Homo sapiens: one gene and its partner. The protein of the gene in region 2 purifies or fractionates together with the protein of the main gene of each other region. This does not show direct contact. Each region holds a gene or a part of one and is shown on either strand. Other genes may lie near its edges.

What was found.
Region 1: the proteins of MAS1 (region 2) and FLT4 purify together in Homo sapiens (affinity purification with mass spectrometry; 2 studies listed by BioGRID and IntAct, with this or other methods). This does not show direct contact.

Annotation. Positions count from the first base shown.
Region 1 is NC_000005.10:180,639,450-180,643,100, forward strand, and holds part of FLT4 (vascular endothelial growth factor receptor 3 isoform 1 precursor), read right to left. Parts: intron 1-3,651. UniProt on the Homo sapiens protein: Tyrosine-protein kinase that acts as a cell-surface receptor for VEGFC and VEGFD, and plays an essential role in adult lymphangiogenesis and in the development of the vascular network and the cardiovascular system during embryonic development.
Region 2 is NC_000006.12:159,889,441-159,893,191, forward strand, and holds the start of MAS1 (proto-oncogene Mas), read left to right. Parts: upstream 1-1,547; 5' UTR 1,548-1,693; exon of another isoform or gene 1,694-1,743; intron 1,744-3,751. UniProt on the Homo sapiens protein: Receptor for angiotensin 1-7. Acts specifically as a functional antagonist of AGTR1 (angiotensin-2 type 1 receptor), although it up-regulates AGTR1 receptor levels.

The DNA of each region.
Region 1 (3,651 bases), on a different chromosome or scaffold from region 2:
GATGGGTAGATTGAACAGAAGGATGGATGGACGGGCAGATGGAAGGATGAACGAATGGCTGGATGGAAGGATGAATGGATGGTGGAAAGGTGGGCATATGGGTGAAGCATGGATGGGTGGATGGTTAGATGGTTGGATGGATGGAAAGTAGATGGATGGATGGCTCAACAGACCTCTGAAACCTCAGAGACTCTTGTCAGACCCTGTTGTTCCACTGGAAAAGATGCTTCCTGTTTTATAGGATGGGCTCCCTGGGCAGATTCAGGCCTGCAGCCTGCCACGTCCAGAGGCTCTGTGACTGCCCAGCCCCCACCTGCAGCCCTGAAGAAGGCGCATCCTTCCTGCCTGGCTGTTGTCTGTCTCTGCTGTCCTTCCCTTCCCGCAGCAGGAAGCACTGTCATCCTGGCCTCTGCTGCGCTCCCCCTGCCTTCCTGTTCCTGGCCCGGGAACTGGCTTCTTCCTTCCCTGAGGCCCCGCAAAGCCCTGGCTCCCAAGCCTGCAGCAGCGTGGTTGGGGCAGGCACCGGGTGGAGGTCAGAAAGGCCAGAATGCATACCTCCTCTTCTCTGTACTGTCAGCAGCCCCAGGACACCCTCCGTCCTCGGGCCACGGGGCCTTGGCGTCAGCCACAGGCGTGGCGGGCGTGGGAGCAGCACAGGAGGGTCCTGCACCTCCCCTGGGCAGTGCTGGCACCCCTCCATGAGGGCCAGGCAGGGTGGGGGAACGTCCCATGGGTTAGGCACTAGCAGCGAGCGAGGTGGGGGGCAGCCGGCCGGCTGCGACTGCCTCATTTGATCCTCACAGCAGCCTGGGAGGGAGGGCTCAACAGCCAGGTCAGCGAGTGAGGAAACTGAGGCGCCAGGCCTCACAGCAGCAGGTGGCCACGTGGGAGCCCAGTCTGGCTGAGTCCAGGTCGGTCCCTGCCCCAGGACCAGGCTCCCCTCCAAAGGCCGGGGGCAGAGGCTCAGGCCAGACCCCAGCCCGGCCTTCCTCCTAGCCCCTAGCATGAAGCCTCAGAGACCCCTGCAGGCAGGAAGGCCCACGTAGGAGGCACATGGCTGCCTGGGCCCTGTGCCCCAGTGGCCTCCACCACACCCCTCCTTGGGGCCTGGCCTCCATCTGGCTTCATGCCCTAGTTGGCTGAGGGCAAAGCCCTTTAAGCTAATGATGCCGTTTTTTTCAAAAGCTTCTTTCCTGAAAACGGAGGGAAAACCCAGCCCAGCCCAGTGAGAGCTGCTGGGAGAGCCAGCCTTGCTTTCCTCCCATGATGTGGGAGTCGGCCCCTCCCTCGGCTCCACACCTGCGTGTCCTGCGTCCCTTGTTCTGTACAGAACCCATATTTTCTCATCAAATCCTCTCTGGGCCCACCAGGATGGGACTGAGATGGGCTGGCTGTGCCATACCCTGGTGGGACAGGGTCCCGGCCCTCTCTACGGGGCAGTGTGGGTGAGCGCTGGCCTTAGCTGGTTTCTGGGAGCTGCTCTCCGAATGATGGCTGAGTCCACAGGGCATGGCTGGGTCCAGGTCCTGGTGCAGAGGTGAAGGGGCCGGCATGAGAGATTGAGGGTAGAACTAGCTGCATCCTCGCAGCCCTGCCCTCGCCTTGCCATCTCTCTCAACCATCACCCTGAGCACCAGCCTCCCAGGCCCCTGCTCTCCAGCAGGCTCCTCCCTGCCCGGTTGGGCTGTGTCCTCTGTCCTCCCTCGTCCTCTGTGCCCGGCAAACTGCTGCCCCCAGCTGAGCATGTCATCCCCACTCTGGCCTTGACCCACAGCACGTGGAGGGTCCGAGTCATCAAGCGGCTCCTGGGCCGGGGTGTCATCAGCCCATGGCTCTGTCCCCAGGCCCAACACAGCCGGCACAGGGATGGCACTGGGATTATCCATCAGCTTGGGGCCCCTCCACATTGGCAGAGAGCATGGCCCTGCGGTGGCCACCCTGGGCCTGGCCCTACTTCTCCCTCTCCCTGGGGTGCTTGGGAAGACGGGGACTGTGTGGCAGGCCTGCCAGCTGGACACACACTTTCTGGGCAGCTGAGCCCAGGAGGACAAAGGCAGCCAGAAGCCAGGCTGCAGACTGGAGGGAGCTGGCGGGGAGCAACGGAGCTGCTGGCTGAGCTGGGGTTGGGCAGAGGGGGTCACCTGCACCCTCTCTTCACTCCTGGGGCCAGGCCTCTGCAGGGACCTGGGGGGAGGCAGCAGGAGCGTCCTGTCTGGTGGCCCCTGCTAACCTGGCCAGCAGCCCCTGTGCCTTCAGAGCTTAAGGGGCTGTCGGTCCTCACTGCACATCCTGCAGGTCTGAGAGAGCTGAGCCCGCATGCCCGGCTGGGCACCCCGCACTGCCGCTCTTTGCTGTATGGTCTTGGGCAAATCACTTCCTCTCTCCAAGCCCCAGTCTTCCCACTTGTGAGATGTGGATTGGCCCTAGGATGACTGGGAACTACAGACCACAAACAACATGGTTAAGAATAAACTGTCGGCTGGGCACAGTGGCTCACGCCTGTAATCACAGCACTTTGGGAGGCCAAGGTGGGCGGATCAGGAGGTCAAGAGATTGAGACCATCCTGGCCAACATGGTGAAACCCCATCTCTACTAAAAATACAAAAATTAGCCCAGTGTGGTGGCGGGCGCCTGCAGTCCCAGCTACTCGAGAGGCTGAGGCAGGAGAATGGCGTGAACCTGAGAGGCAGAGCTTGCAGTGGGCCGAGATCGCGCCACTGCACTCCAGCTTGGGCGACAGAGTGAGACTCTGTGTGAAAAAAAAAAAAAAAAGAATAAGCTGTCTCTGGCTCATGCACACGGATCCCTCTGCTCTCACCTGCCTCCTGAATGCTTGGTTTGCTACAGCTGCTGTATCACTGTGACCCTGTGTTGTCGTCAGAGCATGGGGGCCTCGCTGGTGGGAGAGGATTCATGTGAGCTGAAAGGGGCATTGTAGACTGATTAGGAGCTTGCTGGCCCAGGAGGCGGGCACACAGGCCAGAGTGCCGGTGACTTTGGGCCCTCAAGTAGATGGAGCAGATGGAGCATGGTAAAGGTGATGAGGCCGTGGAAGCAGGCCCAGGTCCCCAGCCGGCCTCGGGCCCTGTCCTGCTCGCTGGATGTACTCTCTCTCTCGATGGTGGCACACCGGGGGGCTTCAACCCCACTCTGTGCTCTCACCCTCCCTGACAGCTCTCCTGGGCTCCAGTCCTGGAGGACCCCAGACCTCGAGCCCAGCCCACATCCAACACTGGGTAGGATGACTGGAAGCACGGAGCTCACAACTGTGCACCCGCCAGAGGAGCAAGTACCACAAAGAATGAGAATTCCCAGCGCTGGAGAGAATGTGGAGAAGGAGGCACCCACACAGTAATGATAAACAGCATCCATACACCGATGGCAAATTCTCCAAATTCTCCTTTCCCAAGACCTCCTGCTGCAACAGCAGCAAGCGTGCACCGAGCACTGTCCATGTGAAGCACAGCCCTACGCATGTGTGCATTCCACATGCCTTCACACCCCTGCGGTTGCCTCCGTATTGCCACTGTACAGATAGAAAGCTAGCACACAGAGGTTAACGCATTCCAAAACACATGACCGTTAAGATATTGTCTTGGGAAGACAGGATTAAGGGAAGCTACTATTCATTCTACAGATGTCTGTATAAT
Region 2 (3,751 bases):
TCGTATCCCATCTCCTTCATCCCTCATTTCCTTCGGGATCAATTCCTCCCCTGCTGGGATTGGAAGCTTCCTGGGCAGCCTCTTATTTTTCCCTAATCATGTTTTCTTCCGTGGGTCTGATCCTTTCCCACCCGTGCTCCTTCTTTTCTGCCTTGCAGTCTGCTTTAGATGGTGCCTGTTTCCTTTTTAGTTTCTGACCATCCTCTGGGAAACTAAAGTTCTTCAGGAGGCTGAACTTCTCCTTCCTTGGAGCATCAGAACCAGGTAATGAGAACACCTTTCCAACTTCAAGACCGAGTTCACCTGGTCTGTTGATTTGCTGCTCAGCACTGCCTACCCAGTAGATGCCTGCTGGCTTCAGGGGAAGCTCTCTTCTCTCCCCTTTCTTCTTCCCACTGGGAGGGCCGAGCTGCTGGTCAGGCTTCCCACAAGAGTAGTTTGGCTCTGCCCTGGGACTATGGTCTTCCTGCTTACGAAAACAGTCGGAGGGGAACTTCATCTGTGGGTTCCTATGTCTGCTTTCCCACAGAGTCTGAAACTGCCTTCTTACCCCTTTTGATATAGTTGGTCCCCGAGGTTCTTAATACTTTGGCACAATATCTATGAAGGAATCCCTTTAAACAAGAGAAAATGCTACCCTGAGTGAGGGGTGGGTCTTCAGGCTTGGGATCTCAGACTTGGCTACCTGAGATCCAAGAGATCCAGAATTCTCAGCCTTTGGGGCTTCACATTGAGTTATTTGAAAAATGGGTAACATATTGGCCATTTTTGGTTTTTAAAAGGTAGAAAAACAAAAAACCTAACCAAACAACAACAACAACAAAAACACAAAAAATGCAGAACAGGGATCGGGGAAAAGGAATTTGCTCTCATGTTCCTGACTGCACGGGTGAGAGTTGGCATCTAACAGAAACAGCTACTCCCAGGAGGAGCCCCCGGACCAGGCTGGGACGCAGTCTGGGCATGGCCAATGGTGCAGACCCCTGCCTTCACCCCTGAACACACTCCTTGGCTTGCTTGCTTTTCATAGCATCCTACGGGTCTTATATACTACACTGAGCATGATACTCTCCGAAACTGGGTTGGAGAAGGGAACAAATCCTTAACTATCTAGCCATGTGTCTCCCGTATGTCTCTCTGGGTCTATACATAGACTCATCTCATCATTACTAGGTTTTGAGTTAATATTATTAGCTCCATTTTACAGATGAGAAAACCAAGTCTTAGAGAGCTTGGCAGAGGTCACATAACTTATTAGAAACTGAGCTGGGAATTTGAGATGGTTCTGTCTTTCTACTACACATGCGGTTTTGCCCTTCCATGTGGCATTTCTCCACGTCATCTTTCTCTTTAGCCCTGGCTGGCCTTAGTGGTTCAAGGTGATCCACTGCCTTGCATTATCACCAGCTCACACCCCGCTCTGGATTGGCGTGAAGATTTTCACTTGAGTGTGTCACTGAATGATGCCATTGGAAGCTTCTGCTGATAAGCGTGGGACCATCTGCTTGGCACATCTCAAATATTTTCAGCAGTGGGAGAGCAGCTCTGATTCCTTCAGAGATGAGAGGCTGCAGCCATCCTTCGAGATGTTGGGACCGGAGACCCTGCAGGCTGGCTGGGCATTGATGCCCCAGATGTGAAGGGGCAGCCAACCTGTTGGCCACGTCTGACCCTTCCTGAGCAAATGACACCAGTGAGTCTGCGTCCCAGTTTTTCATTGCTTAGCTGTCCTTGACAACCAGAGTAAGATTTTCTCTCTTTAAAAAGCTATTTCTTGGATAACTCTTTTCTGTGCTGGTTTTTCTTTCTTTTATTTTTTTCGGTGTGTTAGATGTTTGCCGTTGGTGTGTGTTGGCAAAAACTTCTCTTTCCTCCTGCCTTTGTTTTGGAAAATTTACTTCTTTGCTGAGTTAACTGTTCCCAGACATTGTTTTTCAACTTCAGGGTTGAAACTTCGCAGTAGCGTTTTCTTTTTTAACTCGTTGCAGGGGAAAGAATCTTAGGATCAATTCACAGTTTGAATGGTGGACTTGGAGGTTTTCAAGGCTGCTTAATGAAAGCTTATGAATGATAAAGAAGTTGAGGTTTGAAAGAGTTGTTACTGAATTTGATTCCTCTGGAGAAATCACTTGGCTATCAGCTCTTTGGCATCACAGGGGCAAGCTGTATTGATTTTTCTTCATTTTTCCTTAGTGGGCACTGGCATCAGTATTAGCTTCTGTTGCTTATGAAGCCGTATGCATTCCTTTGGTGACAAGATGTCTGTTAAAAGGAATCTCCTGCCCAGTCTTGATCTTTGGTATGAGCGTCTTAGCAACACTTCCCAGCCAGGATACTTAGGAGTAATTTGGTGAGAGAATGTATAGTGTGTTGTTAGATTGCTATGGGTGCAGCAGTAAAAAGGTGGTAAGAAGCTGGCCTCTAGCAGAGTGCCACGGCCTCGGCACTACTGGCATTTTGGGCTGGGTAATTCTTTGCCGTGTGGGCTGTCTTGTATATTATAGGATGTTTAGCAGCATCTCTGGCCTCTACCAACTAGATACCAGTAGCACACTCCTCTCCATTGTGACAACCAAAAATATCTTCAGGCATGCCAAACATCCCTTAGGGGACAAAATCACCTTCCCCCCTTTTAGACCAGGGCTCTAAATTGATCCTGTGGTATGTTTGGAAAGGGAGCAAGAAGTCTCTGCTTCTGCGTACAGATGGCCCTAGTGTGGGGAAGACGGGAATGATGCATTTAATACCAGGACAGATGGTCCTGCCCTGTACATTCCCATCGGAGCCCTTGCCTGCCATGGAAATTCCATCTCACAAATGGGTTTCTGTTTGTCCAGGTGACTGCACACACACACAGGGAAGAATTTGCCCTTTTCTCTGGATCTGCACACCTAGAAATCCAGCCTAGGGTCAGGCTGTCTTTTAAGTTGCCTGGGAACAACAGGCGCTTTCAGATGGCCCACTCCCCCAGCCTGAGTTTTATTGGCTTTTCTCTCTTTCCTTTTTTCTCCCTGCCTTTCTCCCCAGCCCCCTCTTTCTTTCTTCTAAGAGTGATGTCCTAGGCTGGGTATCTGGGGCCATGGAAGGACTGTGCTCAACTGAATGGGAATGTGGAAGGGGTTGTTTGCTTCTGAGGTCTCTAGAGAACACTTGAGCAGCATAAATGTATGGCATTTAGAACTCTCTGCTGACTCTGAGTCTCCTTGTTTTTTCTATCAGCTCCACCACCCATCTGTTCCTCTCACTTTCATTGAGAGGTAATTGCAGCCAGCAATCTCAGGTGGACCTGGCAGGACACAGGCTCTGCAAAGCCCACATCCTTACACATCAATGGAAACCACCATGCTTGTTTTCCCTGCTTGTTGATTCATTATCTCAGTTTGGCATTTCCATGAGACTCATATTGGCAAAGTGCTGTTCAATCTCTAGCATTTCTTATACCCCAGCCTTTCAAACTACATTAAAATGCCAGCATGTGAAGCAGTTGAGACCCAGTGGGGTTAATCTGCTTGATGGAGGACTTGCCTCTCATGGTCAGTTTGACTGAAAGTGCAGCTCCCAGGCCAAGCAGCCGTAGGCACAAGCAGAATAGGCTGTGGCCTCTGCACTGTACTTTGATCAATGTCAAAACCCCTCTTCTCAAAAGTCTCTTCTGCATTCAGATGCGATACTGCCCACAATTCTTTGAGTTTTGCAGGAAGGTGGTGGGTGTTAAGTCCTACTTTCCACCATGGTCACCCTGGCTTATGGT